Linked DNA regions of Homo sapiens: region 1 is linked to region 2. The links come from fine-mapping of genetic effects on gene expression. Tissue or cell type: whole blood. Region 2 holds a variant in brackets; the other region holds the start of a gene. All regions are shown on one strand. Distances are between the middles of the regions.

The links. PIP is the estimated chance that this variant, and not a neighbour inherited with it, causes the effect.
Region 1: it holds the start of CTSB, and the variant in region 2 is fine-mapped to the expression of CTSB in whole blood (TOPMed, PIP above 0.99). The same link has a PIP of 0.9 or more in cerebellar hemisphere, cerebellum, cerebral cortex and prefrontal cortex.

Annotation. Positions count from the first base shown.
Region 1 is chr8:11,865,047-11,873,200 of GRCh38, reverse strand. CTSB (cathepsin B) reads left to right here and starts at 5,114. Exons shown (of 10, transcript NM_001908.5): 1 at 5,114-5,200. RefSeq lists silencers at 4,961-5,080, 5,221-5,550 and an enhancer at 5,641-5,850.
Region 2 is chr8:11,840,479-11,848,661 of GRCh38, reverse strand. It overlaps CTSB (cathepsin B), which reads left to right. Exons shown (of 10, transcript NM_001908.5): 6 at 510-595; 7 at 840-983; 8 at 1,494-1,610; 9 at 2,873-3,001; 10 at 3,440-6,138. The coding sequence ends at 3,537. Among named protein-coding and RNA genes, the nearest start is that of CTSB, 24 kb to the left of the region's middle. RefSeq lists an enhancer at 1-532. The variant C/G (reference allele first, on the strand shown) is at 4,049.

The sequences.
Region 1 (8,154 bases), 25 kb before region 2:
GGCCCCCAAAAGTTTGTATGTTGAAACCCTAACCCCTAGTACCTCAGAATGTGACTGTATTCAAGGTCTGGGTGTGGTGGCTCATGCCTGTAATCCCAGCATTTTGGGAGGGCAAGGCGGGCACACTGCTTGAGCCCAGGAATTTGAGTCCAACCTGGACAACATGGCAAGACCCAGTATCTGTAAAAATAAAATAAAAAACAACAGCCAGGCATGGTTGTATGCGTCTGTGATCCCAGGTAGTCCAGAGGCTGAGGTGGGAGGATTGCTTGAGCCCGGGAGGTGAAGGTTGCCGTGAGCCAAGATCCTGCCACTGCACTCCAGCCTGGGTGACAGAGCGAGACCCTGTCTCAAACTTTTTTTTTAATTAAATAAATGAAAAATAAAAATAAATAAAACTACAAGGGCAACTGAAACCCCAAGTGAGATAATACATTTGCTCTTCATGGAAGAGGACAAGTGAGTAAACCCTGCTCTTCTGTGGTGGGGAGGCCATAGTTAGAATTGAAGGGGCCCCACCAGAAACAGAAATGGTGGGAAGTGGTGGCCTCTGGAGGCAAAGCTTTGGGGGCTGTGGACATCTGCTGAGACCCTGGCTGCAGACATGGCTTCCCTTCCGAGGGAGTTCATGTGAAAGTCGAGGCCCCCACCGGTATTAGAGGAGCAGCCATCTCTTTTGCTCGCAGTTAAACAAGTGCTCTCGCAGTAGGATAAGCCACAAAGGAGACACTGTAGGAGAATAAAGAGGAATCCTTCTGGAAGCCAATAGAAAAAAAAAAAAAACAATGTGGTCAGCCCTCATAAGGCTAGAACCAGAAACTTAGTTCTCTGAAGCCAAGGCACTGTAATTTCCCTCCCTCTGATGACAGTCACACCACAGAAAGGGAGCTGTCGGGAGGAAGAAGAAGGAGCCCAGAGGCACGGCTCATACCTCCCTGCTGGAAGGAGGGGTAAAGGGCACGAAAGTCCTTTGAGAAGAGAGGAAGGAGAAATAGAAATGAATAAGACAGCACCCTACACCAACCAACTTAGAGTTTAGATAGGAATGGAGACATATTTCTGAAAATACTGGAAACAATCACAGCCAAATAAGAAATCCAGTTCATTTCAACACTGAATAGTTGGGCACTGTAGCGTATTCAAGGATAATTTTTAAAAATTAAAAAGTTAAATCAGGCTGGGCGAGGTGGCTCACACCTGTAATCCTAGCACTTTGAGAGGCGGAGACAGCAGGATCATTTGAGCTCAAGAGCTTGAGATCAGCCTGGGCAACATGGGAAAACACCGTCTCTACAAAAAATACAAAATTAGGCTGGGCCCTGTGGCTCACGCCTGTAATCCCAGCACTTTGGGGGGCCGAGGCAGGTGGATCACGAGGTCAGGAGTTCGAGACCAGCCTGGCCAACATGGTGAAACCCTGTCTCTACTAAAAATACAAAAATTAGGGGAGTGTGGTGGCGGGTGCCTGTAACCCCAGCTACTCAGGAGGCTGAGGCAGAATTGCTTGAACTCGGGAGGCGGAGGTTGCAGTGAGGCGATATCGCACCACTGCACTCCAGCCTGGGCGACAGAGCGAGACTCTGTCTCGGCAAAAAAAAAAAATTCATATTAGCCCCCAGAGAAACCCCACACCCTTTAGCTGTCACCTACCTAACCTCCCATGTGGATTTCACGGAATCATACAATACTGAGTCCTTTGGACCTGGCTGATTTTACTTAGTAAACGTTTTCAAGGTTTATCGATGTTGTAGCATGTGTGACTACTTCATTCCTTTTTACGACTGAATAAAACTCCATTTGGTGGATTTATGACAGTTTGTTTATTCGTGCAATGGTTTTTAATGGATGGACATTTGAGTTGTTTTCACCTTTTGGTTACTGTAAATAATGCTGCTATAAACATCTGGTGTAAGTTTATACATACGTTATTAACTTTTGTTTTAGAGTTGGGGTCTCACTATGTTCCCCAGGCTGGTCTTGAACTCCTAGGCTTAAGTAATCCACCCACCTCTGCCTCCCAAAGTGCTGGGATTACAGGCGTGAGCCCACTGTGCCCGGCGGATTTTTGTGAGGACGTATGTTTTCACCTCTTTCAGGTGTTAACTTAGGCCTCTTTTACGGATGTTCAACAAGCAAACAGCTTTTACACACGTGAGTCAAGGCCTCTCTGTAAGTTCTGAGAGCTGTTCCCCAGGCCCTGAACCCTGACCCCCAAATCTAGCAGGTTAAGCCAAAATTCTCCTCAACTTCAAGGCCTACTTCATTCATTATGCATCCACTCAACTCACATTTCTCTATCCTCTGCTATGGGCCAGACACCCTGCAATGAGCTGGGATGAAGCAGGGGAACACCGCAGGTAAAAATGCTTGCCTGGGTGGGGCTTAAGATCCAGTGAGGGCAGGAAGGAACATATACAAGTAAATATGCTGTATGTTCCTTTCTCCATGAAGCTTTCCTGGATGTTCCAGGAAGGGACGAATTCTACTCTGGTAGTAATATATTTCTTTTCTTGTCTTTTGAGGAGTCTTGCCCATGTTGGAGTGCAATGGCGTGATCTCGGCTCACTACAACCTCTGACTCCCTGGTTCAAGGGATCCTCCTGCCTCAGCGCTCGAGTAGCTGGGATTACAGGCCCGCAATGCCACACCCAGCTAATTTTTGTATTTTTAGTAGAGACGGGGTTTCACCATGTTGGCCAGGCTGGTCTTGAACTTCCAACGTCGTGATCCGCCTGCCTTGGCCTCCCAAAGTGCTGGGATTACAGGCGTGAGCCACTGCGCCTGGCCTATTTCTTTTTTTCTTTTCTTTTCTTTTGAGATGGAATCTTGCCCGGGTTGGAGTGCAATGGCGTGATTTTGGCTCACCGCAACCTCCACCTCCCGGGCTCAAGCGATTCTCCTGCCTCAGCCTCTCAAGTAGCTGGGATTACAGGCGCGTGAACCACCACGCCCAGCTAATTTTTGTATTTTTAGTAGAGACTGGGTTTCACCATTTGGGCCAGGCTGGTCTGGAACTCCCGACCTCAGGTGATCTGCCTGCCTCAGCCTCCCAAAGTGCTAGGATTACAGTGGTGAACCACCGCGCCTAGCCTGTTTCTTTTGTTTCAAAAGTGATTTTTACCTCTCAAAAGTGATTTCTATAATGACACTGATGGAAAATTCCATCAAATAGCCATAACGCATGTCAAGCACTCTGCTCTGCATACCTTCTGTCACACTCTAAGGATGAGAGAGGGGAGAGTTATCCTGGTTCTGGCTGTGTCCTCCCCATTTTGGCCATCTTATGAGCTCCTTATAGAGGTCTGAAATGATTTGGAGTCCAGAGTCCATGGCTGTCAGGATATGACTAGGGTGAGCAGGCAGTTGGGACCACCTTGACCTCCAGCCTCCTGGTCCTCAGTTCCTCGGGTATCCCACTCTGCTGGGGGCTTAGTGACCATGTTTGGGCTCCAGAGATTATTTTTTCCTTCCACTCCTATCCTTAGTTTGTTACTAACCAGGCGGGAGTACAGGCATGTCTCTGAAGACAGGCTCAGGGCTGTGTGACAGCTGACGACCAGGCTGCAGGGAACCAGGTCCCATGCAGTCCTACTGCCTTTTTTTTTTTTTTTTTTTTTTTTTTTGAGGCGGAGTCTCGCTTTTCGCCCAGGCTGGAGTGCAGTGGCACGATCTCAGCTCACGGGTTCACGCCATTCTCCTGCCTCCGCCTCCCGAGTAGCTGGGACTACAGGCGCCCGCCACCACGCCCGGCTAATTTTTTGTATTTTTACTAGAGACGGGGTTTCACCGTGTTAGCCAGGATAATCTTGATCTCCTGACCTCGTGATCCGCCCGCCTCGGCCTCCCAAAGTGCTGGGATTACAGGCGTGAGCCACTGCACCCGGCTACTGCCTTCTTACTGTCGCCACAGCCTGGATAAAATACGATTCTTCTGAGCCTTTTTTTTTTTTTTAATACAGAGTTTCACTCTTGTTGCCTAGGCTGGAGTGCAATAGTGCGATCTCTGGTCACCGCAACCTCCGCCTCCCGGGTTCAAGCGATTCTCCTGCTTCAGTCTCCCGAGTAGCTGGGATTACTGACACGCGCCACCACGCCCGGCTAGTTTTGTATTTTTAGTAGAGACGGGGTTTCTCCATGTTGGTCAGGATGGTCTCGAACTCCCGACCTCAGGTGACTCACCGGCCTCGGCCTCCCAAAATGCTGGGATTACAGGCGTGAGCCACCGAACCCAGCCCCTCTGAGCCTCTTGAATACAACTGGGGTCATGCCTGCTTTGCAGGTTTGTCTTAAGGATTAAAGCTGTTTGGGGAGTGTCTGGAGGAGGGTGAGTCTTGAGCCAACCCCTGCATCTCCCTTCCAGGGCCTCCCGGTAATAAACCCCAAGTAAATGTGCACTTTGTCCGTCCTCTCGGAGCAGGTCTCCGGGTACTCCTGTGCCAAACCGATTTCCGCCCCCAAGGTCCTTCTCCTCTTAGAAATCCTGACGCAGCTCCTAGGTTCCTTCGCAGTGACAGCCACTCTTTTCTATTTGTACGTAGCTGTAGTGTTTTGTGGGTACGTTCTCTGAACAACAAAGTGGCCCTTCTAAAGGCTGTTCTGTGGGGTCCACAGCCTCGCCACCCCCAGCCTCTGCAGCGGCTTCTGAATGAATGAAATAAGCGACGGCGCCCTCTCCACCACCCCACCCCCGCCAACTCGGCAGGCAGGGATCCCAGGCGCGGGTTCTGGCGGAGGCGGTCCCGCGAGGCGGGGGGACTTTTCTAGGCGGGGTGGGGGCCTTGGGACCACCTTTAGGGGCTTTTTCCCCATCCCCTGGCCCCAATTCGCAGCGTTTCGCCACCCAGGGCCCGCAGGGCTCCAAGCCCTTCTTCCCCAGCCCGCGCGCTCAGGCCCCCGCCCGCCCCCGGCGGTGGCCCCGGACCCCGAGCGGAAGGGGGCGGGGGGTGTGCGGGGCCGGGAAGCGGGGAGCGCGGGCGGCGGAAGGTGGCGGGAGGGGGTGGGGGCTGGGAAGCACCGTGCGCGGGCGGCGGGAGGGCCCGGGCGGGGCTGCGCGGTGGTCACGTGGGGCGGGGCCGGGAGGGTACTTAGGGCCGGGGCTGGCCCAGGCTACGGCGGCTGCAGGGCTCCGGCAACCGCTCCGGCAACGCCAACCGCTCCGCTGCGCGCAGGCTGGGCTGCAGGCTCTCGGCTGCAGCGCTGGGTGAGTGCTGGGGACCCGGGGCCACCGCAGCGTAAGTGACCTTGGCGGGGACGGTGCTACCCGGCCGCCGAGACGGGTTCCTCTGCGCCCTCAGTCGGGCCCAGGCGCGGCCCCGCGGCGTCCCTGGGGGCCGGCGGGGAGCCGGGACCCTCGGGACTGTCCCTGACGGGCGGGCTGGGGTGGGAGTCCGCGCGCTCCGAAGCGTCGGCGAGAAAAGCAGAAAACAGCTCCGCCCGCCAGCCCTCTGCCCTCCGCTCCCCTCCCCGGGCTGTGCGCCGGACCCCGGCCCTCGGAGCGGGGACGCGGCCAGGACCGCCGAGGGAGGCGCCTGCGAGGAAGAGCTCGGCCGGGTCCGGAGACTGCTGCCTGGGACCGCGCTCCCAGCGCCTGGGCCTCGGTGTCTCCGGGCCAAACTGCCGACATAATCGCATCTGCCGGCATCTATTTTCGGTTTATTTCCCCCTCATTGCGAAGGATTTGCCTGGCCAACTTTCTGCGCAAGATCCCACGCAATTCCTGGGACCCCAGAAGACAGGTCCTGTTGAAGAACAGGAATCTGGCACTGGGTGGGCTGGGGAGGAAGCCGCACGGTGTTAAATCCATAAACAGGAAGAGAAACCAGACAGCGAAACCAAGAGGCGAATGGGCGATTGGATGCCGGTGGGGAGAAGGCCGGGGGCGCACCCTGCTCCTGGACTCCAGTAAAGGGAGGCCGGGCAGAGTCCCTGGGGCGCCACCTCCCCCTCGGTTAGTAGCCCTGGAGGCCGGGGGGAGTTGGCCTCTGGGGAGCAGTGGGTGCTGGGTGTGGGGCGTTGCAGGCAGGCTGGGGTGGGCGACCCAGGTGGAAGTGAATTGCACTTGGCTTCCTGGTGGGCCTCTGTCACCCCCTTCCCAGGCGCTGAGAAAGCCAGCAGGCTGGCAAAGAAAAGGACCCTAGCGCAGGCCCCACACTCCTCCTCCTAACGGACGAGAGACCCCCCAAACCCACTGGAGAAGTGACGCTGTGGGGTTCAAATGCAGACCTGGCACCTTTTTGTAGCCTGGAAAAACATTCCCACTGCCTGCTGCCGGAGGAGAGGATAGCTGAGATGCACTCTCTTTGAATCCAAACGTTCAGGAACGTAAGGCGAAGAGGCCTAAGAGGGCGTTGGCTGGCTCTGTCTCTCAGGCTGGAGCACAGTGGCGCGATCTCGGCTCACTACAACTTCCGCCTCCCAAATTCAAGCTATTCTCCTGCCTCAGCCTCCCGAGTAGCTGGGATTACAGGTGCCCGCCACCACGCCCAGCTAATTTTTGTATTTTTAGTAGAGATGGGGTTTCACCATGTTGACCAGGCAGATCTTGACCTCCTGACCTCAGGTGATCCGCCTGTCTCGGCCTCCCGGTGAGTCACGGTGCCTGGCCAAGAACTGTTTCTTGTTGGCTCTGGTGCTGGTGACTTAGAACCCGCCAGCTCCTGGAGAAAGGGGCTGGGCCGCCCACCCTGTGTAGCTTTCCCAAAGACAGAGTCAAACGTCTCCTGGAGAACAGAGGCTTCCCTTCGTCTTTGGTCATTTGTCCTCTAGCTGGGGGTACCCCCTGGTGGAAAGGCACAGGTCCCTTGCTCCCCAGGTGGCAACGCAGGCCAGACACGGCCCTGGCACAGCTCTCCTGGGTGTTGGCTCAGGACAGCCCTGTTTCCAACTGGTTAGGCGGTGAGGGGTGGTGGCCCTTTGGTTCCAGGTTGAAACTGCCCATGTGGTGCTGATTTAGCAGACTGGGGAGGCTCTTTTTGTAGGCAGGTTCTTTTCTTTCCCCAGCTGCTGGACCTGGGAGTTGGAAGAGAAGTTGCACCCATTTTAGGGGTAACAGATATTTTCTGTTGCTCTTGGTTGGATTGGGAAGTGAATTGAAGGGAGGTCACGTTTCAGGGGTGCCTTGGGATGTCTGTCAGTGATTTTCTTTTCTTTCTTAATTTCTTTTTCTTTCTTTTTTTTTTTTTTTTGAGACACACTCCCTCTATCGCTCAGGCTGGAGTGCAGTGGTGCGATCTCGGTTCACTGCCACCTCCGCCTCTCATGTTGAAGCAATTCTCCTGTCTCAGCCTCCCTCCCAAGTAGCTGGGATTGCCAGTGCCCATCACCACACCTGGCTTTTTTTTTTTTTTTTGTATTTTTAGTAGAGACGGGCTTTCACCATGTTAGCCAGGCTGGTTTTCGAACTCCTGATCTCAAGTGATCCGCCTCAGCCTCCCAAAGTGGTAGGATTACAGGCATGAGCCACCGCGCGGTGGAGGGGTAATTTTCTTAAATCTGGTAATGAGTTGTGGTTGTGTAGAGTAACATACCGTCCTTTCGAGATATGGACTGAAACATTGAGAGGGAGGAGTTACAGGTATGTCGATTCTTCTTTTCTCTCTCTCCTTTTTTTTTTTGAGGTGGAGTCTGACTCTCTCACCCAGGCTGGAGTGCAGTGGCAAGATCTCAGCTCACTGCAACTCCGCTTCCTGTGTTCAAGCCATTCTCCTGCCTCAGTCTCTCAACTAGCTGCGATTACAGGCATGTGCCTCCACACTCAGCTAATTTTTTTATTTTTAGTAGAGATTTTTTGTCTCTCCTAAAAAAATCCAATGTAAAAAAATCCCAATGTGGGGGTTTTGCCACGTTGGCCAGGCTGGTCTCGAACTCCTGACCTCGTGATCCGCCCACCTCGGCCTCCCAAAGCGCTGGGATTACAGGTATGAGCCACTGCGCCCAGTCTGCTGCCTCTTTTCAATGGTCTGGCCTAAGGAAATTATTGGAAACATGTGCGGTTGAGTGATATTTACTGGGCACTTCCACATGGTCCATGTAAAGGGAGATGGTTGGGGTGACAGGCAGTTGAGTCTAGGGGAGGCATGTACAGATGTGCTGTGCCTCTGGGATATCAGGGTGGCAGGCAGCAGTCTCTACGTCTGGTCCCAGGCTGCCTGAGAA
Region 2 (8,183 bases):
AACTTTCTGCTCCAGCTGCCTGCAGCCTCGCCTTGGTTCCGCAGTAGCGGTGTTCACTGGCGGCTGCAGATCCGAAATGCCTGAGGGCTTAAAAAAATGCATGGGCTTCTCCCCTAACTAGTTAAATGGGAATCACTGGCGATTCTCATTTCAGAGAACTGGTGGTGTTTTTAAGTACCTTAGGGAAGTTTAGCGTCTGCTCAGTTGAGAATCAGTGTTCTACCCGGAAGGGCACTCGTAGCCTGGTCTGGTATGGACATGAACAGGAGAGCCTCCTGTCTTCTCCCGGATCTTTGTGGGCAGGGGTGGGGCTGGCGGTTATTCCCTGCAAGCTGTGCTTATCTAGGGAGCGTCCCTTGGAGGGTTTGGGGTCTGGGAGGTCTGCTCGCACCACTTGCTGCAGCTGGGGGTGGGTCCACGAGTGGCCTCGGGCACTTGGGTAGCACACAGTGGTCTGGAGAGCTGGTGGTGCTTCTCTCAGAGGTTTTCATTAGAGGCTGTCTTTTCAGCTGTAATGGTGGCTATCCTGCTGAAGCTTGGAACTTCTGGACAAGAAAAGGCCTGGTTTCTGGTGGCCTCTATGAATCCCATGTAGGTAAGTGTGTCCCCTTGGCCACTTTCTGGCCAGATGGATTGTTTGAGCAATTAACCATCATGGCTTTATTTGCCTTTATAAACTGGGGGTTGAGACAGAGGGGCTGCTGAGAGGTGCTAGCCAGGTGCACAGGCCTCTGGCAGGACCTGCCTGGCGTCCATGCTGCAGGCACGAGGCTTGCCTTGCCCCAGGTCTTCTCCGTGGGGGCTGTAGGTTGACTCCGCTTTCTCCCGCGTCCCATCAGGGTGCAGACCGTACTCCATCCCTCCCTGTGAGCACCACGTCAACGGCTCCCGGCCCCCATGCACGGGGGAGGGAGATACCCCCAAGTGTAGCAAGATCTGTGAGCCTGGCTACAGCCCGACCTACAAACAGGACAAGCACTACGGTAAGGGGCCTGGGGCCTGGCCACGGCGCACGTGGAGGCTGGGGAGCTGCTGCATCCCTCCTCACGCTGCAGCGAAGAGGTCAGGGCTGAGGAGCCTTGGGGTCCCGGAACTCTAGGATAGAGGAGGGGGAGTGATGCCCTCTTGCCAGGAGAAGCAGCACACTCTCCACTTTCTGCCTGTTCCACCCTGAACTCAGCCTCAGCCCTTCCAAACTGGAAGGGACCAAAGCCCTCCTTTTACAAGGGAGTGGCGTGTCCTGGAGTCTTGAGGTATCCTGGCCTCTTCCGGGGCCTCGTGCTCATTGCTCCGTTCTCCCATTTCTGAGCTTCCAGCCCCAGCCCTGTCCTTAGTTCTTCAGGGGAGCCTTCCTTGAGCTCCCCTGGCAGGGCAAGTCCCCTTAGATGCAGTCTTCCCCTGGAGGCCACCAGAAATCAGTGACTGGCTGACCGTGGCGTGCCACGAGGCACGGTCACTGCCCTCCCCAACCCCGAGCTCGGTTCATTTTCCAGGATACAATTCCTACAGCGTCTCCAATAGCGAGAAGGACATCATGGCCGAGATCTACAAAAACGGCCCCGTGGAGGGAGCTTTCTCTGTGTATTCGGACTTCCTGCTCTACAAGTCAGGTGCGTGCTGATGGCTGATGGCAATAGAGGGTGGGGGTCGGGAGGGGAGCCTGGGTGCCAGGATGGTTCATGTTGACCAATAGGGCTGGATTGGGCAGGCAGGTGAGGGGCTGGGGAAGAGGGCTGTGTGGGGCCTTCCATATAGGCTCACTCCTCTGTGGACCAGCCTGGCACCTGACTGTCTTTGTCCAGGTGTTGTGCCAACACACACAATTCCAGAGGCCTCTCCCAGAGCCTCTGGGCTAGTTCCTTCCCATCCATTAGCGTCCAGCTCATACATGTTCTCTGTGGGAACGCCCCCCTCCCTGGTGGCTGGCCACGCCTGCCCTCGCCTTCCTGGCTTTGCATTGCTTTACCAGCATGTTTCTGTTATAATGGCAGGCCGTTCGTGTTTGCACTGGCTGACACATTTTCTTCATCTTTCTCTTTGCAAAGGCCTAGATCGTGCCTCACACCAGTGGATGAACACACAGGGAGGACCTTGCCCTGGGTAGTGCCATAGGGACTCCAACCAAGGAATCTGGACAGTCCCCATCCCCAAGTCCTGTCTTAGAAATCCCTTGCTCCAGATGAACAGTCTTTGCTGACTGCATCTATCCCATTAATATTTTGCTAGATTGGAAACTTGTAAAACAACAGTTTGACAAAGGAAGATGATTCTGGCAAGAAAAAGTTTCTGTGAAGATGGCACTTCTTAGCATAGTCCTCGCCCTTATTATTAAAAGATGCATTTCCACTTTGACAGTGATTTCCCCACCCGAGAGCCTGGTTGGGCAGCCCTGAGCCCCTTAGCCAGTATCTTTCCCATCAGCTAGCATTAGCTGCCACCAGTCCTCCCTTCTCCTCCCTCACCTCTTCAGGGTGTACCTGGAGCAGCTATTAAAACTCTTTAAGCCGTGTAACGCTTTTGACAAACCCTTACTTACATGGAATCCCAGTATAAAGAACAGATGAATCAGTCATCTAGCATTAAATGTTTTATCAATTAGAATGTATTAGAAATTCTATTTTTAAAGCCAACAAGCACATTTTGTAGGAATCTATTTCAATATTTACTCAACAACTTTGAGTGTGTTGGGCCTTCAAAAATATATTTAATTCCCCAGTATTGTGGGACCCCCCCTGGAGCCTCCTGGTGGAGCAGCAGGTTCCCTCTGGAAGCTGTTTCTCCTTCCCGGAGCATGACCAGCTGAGTGTGGGGGGTGCTGTGGGGCGTGGGACAGTGGCCCGGTCTCGGTCTCAGCCAGTTCTTCCCTTTTCAGGAGTGTACCAACACGTCACCGGAGAGATGATGGGTGGCCATGCCATCCGCATCCTGGGCTGGGGAGTGGAGAATGGCACACCCTACTGGCTGGTTGCCAACTCCTGGAACACTGACTGGGGTGACAATGGTGAGTGGCTGCCCCCTTCCTGCCAAGAACAGTGAATTGTGAGCCACACCCCGTGGCCATCTCGGCTTTCTCTGTTCTACCCACCGCACAGCCTTAAACCCTGGACCTACGGCCAGGCTGTGAGCTCCTCCTAAGTGCCAGGCAGTCAGGAGTTCCCTTTTGCTGTGAGGGCAGACTCTGAGCAGCTTCAGAGCCAACGCCTGCAACAGTTCCCACAGCATCGCGCCAGATCCTGTGATGGGAAGGGTGACCGGGCAGGGGGCTTGCCCGTGGAGGTGTGCCCCACGGCTCCAGAAGCCTTGTGGTGTTGAGGACTGTGCTAGTGGGCCAACAGCAGGAGTGGCCAGGGATGAGTGACTTAAGGTCTTTTAAGGATGAGTCTGACTATATTGGTTGACCCTTGTCACACTTTAAAAGCACCTTACTTTTTATTCCCAGGCTTCTTTAAAATACTCAGAGGACAGGATCACTGTGGAATCGAATCAGAAGTGGTGGCTGGAATTCCACGCACCGATCAGTACTGGGAAAAGATCTAATCTGCCGTGGGCCTGTCGTGCCAGTCCTGGGGGCGAGATCGGGGTAGAAATGCATTTTATTCTTTAAGTTCACGTAAGATACAAGTTTCAGACAGGGTCTGAAGGACTGGATTGGCCAAACATCAGACCTGTCTTCCAAGGAGACCAAGTCCTGGCTACATCCCAGCCTGTGGTTACAGTGCAGACAGGCCATGTGAGCCACCGCTGCCAGCACAGAGCGTCCTTCCCCCTGTAGACTAGTGCCGTAGGGAGTACCTGCTGCCCCAGCTGACTGTGGCCCCCTCCGTGATCCATCCATCTCCAGGGAGCAAGACAGAGACGCAGGAATGGAAAGCGGAGTTCCTAACAGGATGAAAGTTCCCCCATCAGTTCCCCCAGTACCTCCAAGCAAGTAGCTTTCCACATTTGTCACAGAAATCAGAGGAGAGACGGTGTTGGGAGCCCTTTGGAGAACGCCAGTCTCCCAGGCCCCCTGCATCTATCGAGTTTGCAATGTCACAACCTCTCTGAT[C/G]TTGTGCTCAGCATGATTCTTTAATAGAAGTTTTATTTTTTCGTGCACTCTGCTAATCATGTGGGTGAGCCAGTGGAACAGCGGGAGACCTGTGCTAGTTTTACAGATTGCCTCCTTATGACGCGGCTCAAAAGGAAACCAAGTGGTCAGGAGTTGTTTCTGACCCACTGATCTCTACTACCACAAGGAAAATAGTTTAGGAGAAACCAGCTTTTACTGTTTTTGAAAAATTACAGCTTCACCCTGTCAAGTTAACAAGGAATGCCTGTGCCAATAAAAGTTTTCTCCAACTTGAAGTCTACTCTGATGGGATCTCAGATCCTTTGTCACTGCCTATAGACTTGTAGCTGCTGTCTCTCTTTGTCCCTGCAGAGAATCACGTCCTGGAACTGCATGTTCTTGCGACTCTTGGGACTTCATCTTAACTTCTCGCTGCCCCAGCCATGTTTTCAACCATGGCATCCCTCCCCCAATTAGTTCCCTGTCATCCTCGTCAACCTTCTCTGTAAGTGCCTGGTAAGCTTGCCCTTGCTTAAGAACTCAAAACATAGCTGTGCTCTATTTTTTTGTTGTTGTTGTGACTGACAGAGTGAGATTCCGTCTCCCAGGCTGGAGTGCAGTGGCGCCTTCTCAGCTCACTGCAACCTGCAGCCTCCTAGATTCAAGCGATTCTCCTGCTTCAGCCTTCCGAGTAGCTGGGATGACAGGCACTCACCAATATGCCTGGGTAATTTTTGTATTTTTAAGTACATACAGGATTTCACCATGTTGGCCAGGCTAGTTTCAAACTCCCGGCCTCAGGTGGTCTGCCTGCCTCAGCCTCCCAAAGTGTTGGGATTACAGGCGTGAGCCACTGGGCCCTGCCTGTATTTTTTATCAGCCACAAATCCAGCAACAAGCTGAGGATTCAGCTCATAAAACAGGCTTGGTGTCTTGGTGATCTCACATAACCAAGATGCTACCCCGTGGGGAACCACATCCCCCTGGATGCCCTCCAGCCTTGGTTTGGGCTGGAGTCAGGGCCTGTATACAGTATTTTGAATTTGTATGCCACTGGTTTGCATTGCTGGTCAGGAACTCTAGTGCTTTGCATAGCCCTGGTTTAGAAACATGTTATAGCAGTTCTTGGTATAGAGCAAACTAGAAGAACCAGCAATCATTCCACTGTCCTGCCAAGGTACACCTCAGTACTCCCCTTCCCAACTGAAGTGGTATGAGGCTAGCTCTTTCCAAAAGCATTCAAGTTTGGCTTCTGATGTGACTCAGAATTTAGGAACCAGATGCTAGATCAAATAAGCTCTGAAAATCTGAGGAACATTGTAGGAAAGGTTTGTTAAGCATCTCTTAAGTGCCATGATGAGCATAACAGCCGGCCGTCGTGGCTCACGCCTGTAATCCCAGCACTTTGGGAGGCCAAGGTGGGAGGATGACAAGGTCAGGAGTTCAAGACCAGCCTGGCCAACATGCTGAAACCTCACCTCTACTAAAAATACAAAAATTAGCTGGGCATGGTGGCACATGCCTGTAATCCCAGCTACTTGGGAGGCTGAGGCAGGAGAATCGCTTGAACCCGGGAGGCGGAGGTTGCAGTGAGCCAAGACAGTGCCAGTGCACTCCAGCCTCGGTGACAGCGCAAGGCTCCGTCTCAATAATTAAAAAAAAAAAAAAAAAAAAAAAGGCCGGGCGCAGTGGCTCAAGCCTGTAATCCCAGCACTTTGGGAGGCTGAGGCGGGCAGATCACCTGAGGTCAGGAGTTTTGAGATCAGCCTTGGCAACACGGTGAAACCCCATCTCTACTAAAAATACAAAATTAGCCAAGCATGCTGGCACATGCCTGTAATCCCAGCTACTCGGGAGGCTGAGGTACGAGAATCGCTTGAACCTGGGAGGCAGAGGATGCAGTGAGCCGAGATCACGCCATTGCACTCCAGCCTGGGGGACAAGAGTGAATCTGTGTCTCACCAAAAAAAAAAAGAAAAAGAAAGATGCTTAACAAAGGTTACCATAAGCCACAAATTCATAACCACTTATCCTTCCAGTTTCAAGTAGAATATATTCATAACCTCAATAAAGTTCTCCCTGCTCCCAAACTGAGTTGATTCATTCCATGCGCACTGTCTCCCTCACCTCCATCGTATACGCACCTGCAGCTCCTTGCCTGCTTCTAGCATGGAGCCAGCGGGGATGTGCTGGTGAGTGACAAGGAATTGTGGGGCATGTCGACATCAGCTTAAGGCTTTGTTAGAAACACCTGCCTTGCAGTGTTTGTGACTGGGAAAGAGCTCAGTGTTTTAATACACCTCAGATCACCACATTGATCATAACTTTGTCACCTCAGTTCAATAGTTTCTCCTGGATTCTTGTCCAAGTGAGATGACAGGTGGACGTAACAATGCCTTTTCAGTCTTTACCTAGCCTCTCCAGAGAATCACTCCAGAATAGAAATTAGAGTATAGGTAGGCAGTCCAACCTCTGCATTTAAAAAAAAAAATTTTGAGATGGGAGTCTCTCTCTGTCACCCAGGCTGGAGTGCAGTGGCATGATCTTGGCTCACTGCAGCCTCCGCCTCCTGGGTTCAAGGGATTCTCCTGCCTCAGCCTCCCGAGTAGCTGGGATTACAGGCACCTGCCACCACACCTGGCCTAATGTTTATATTTTTAGTAGAGATAGAGTTTCACCATGTTGGCCAGGCTGGTCTGGAACTCCTGACTTCAAGTGATCCACCTGCCTTGGCCTCCCAAAGTGCTAGGATTATAGGCGTGAGCCACTGTGCCCGGCTGCCACTCTTTTTAAAGAAAGCAGTAATTTGCCCTCTTTTATTGTGCTTCAGCCATACTGAAGTGGTCCACAGACCAGGAGCACGGCCGTCACCTGAGAGCCTGTTAGAAATGCTCATCAGAGTGTCAGAGGGCCAGACCTCTGAACCAGCATTTGCATCTCCCAAGACCCCAGGTAGTTTCCCAGGTACATTCAAGCTCACAATACCTTTCCAGCTGCTCCCTGATTAGAAAACTGCATGAGAATTTAGGAATGCAACCTCTTGGGCACCCCATCAGACCTACTGTATCAGTCTCTGTTCCCAGCAATCAGGCAATTCTGATATAAAGTCTGAGAACCACAGCCTTAGAACTGTTTCCAAAACTGCCAAGAATAACCTAGAATGTTTGTTAACATGCCTGACTCGCCCTCTTCCTCCTATACACACCCGAGCCCCTGGGAAATGGCTCAGTAGATGGAAGAAGGGGCCCTCCCTGCACTTGCCCACAGGGATCCGGAAGTTCCCATATGCAGATATAAAGCTCTTGCTCCCAAGCATTCTAATTGTTTATGGTCCTAGATTCACATGGGTCAGAGGCTCCTCTGAGGAAAACAAAATATTGCACCATTAGGTCGGATCCAAATAGACTGTATGCCAGAGATGCTATAAAATTATATTAGAAGTGGGGAGTAGAGGGTAGTGTTGCCAGAGTTACCAAACAGAAATACAAGATGGCCAACTACTTCTGAATTTTCAGTTATGCAAGTTTGTTTGTTTTTTGAGACAGAGTCTCACTCTGTCGCCCAGGCTGGAGTGCAATGGCGTGATCTTGGCTCACCACAACCTCTGCCTCAACCTCTTGAGCTCAAGGGATCCTCCTGCCTCAGCCCCAACACCCTCCGAGTAGCTGAGACCACAGGTGTGAGCCGCCATGCCCAGCATCCCCTATTATATCTGGCAACCTTAGTAGAGAAGATACTTAGAAGGAAAACAAGCTTTCAAAGAGCTTCAGAATGGAATGAGAGCGGATACCTTTCTACAACTCAGTGAGTAGAAAAAAGCACATAGCTTTATAGATAGAAAAAATCTGAGATCACCCAAACCACACAGCTCAGGAAGTGGTCCCACAGGTAATGACCAAGTCAGGAAAGAAGATTTCCACAGGCCCCACTCAGACCAAATCTCTTTCCAGCAGGTTGTTCTGTCTTAACGTGAACTTTGGCAGAATTAAATCTTAGATTTCAACACACAGATTTTTAACAACCTACCCTGAAATCTCAAACCAAGTTTTGAGGCTTTAATTCCTTGGAAAATACTGTCGAGTCTAGCTCAGTGGTCCCCAAGCTTTTTGGCACCAGGGACCGGTTTCATAAAGAC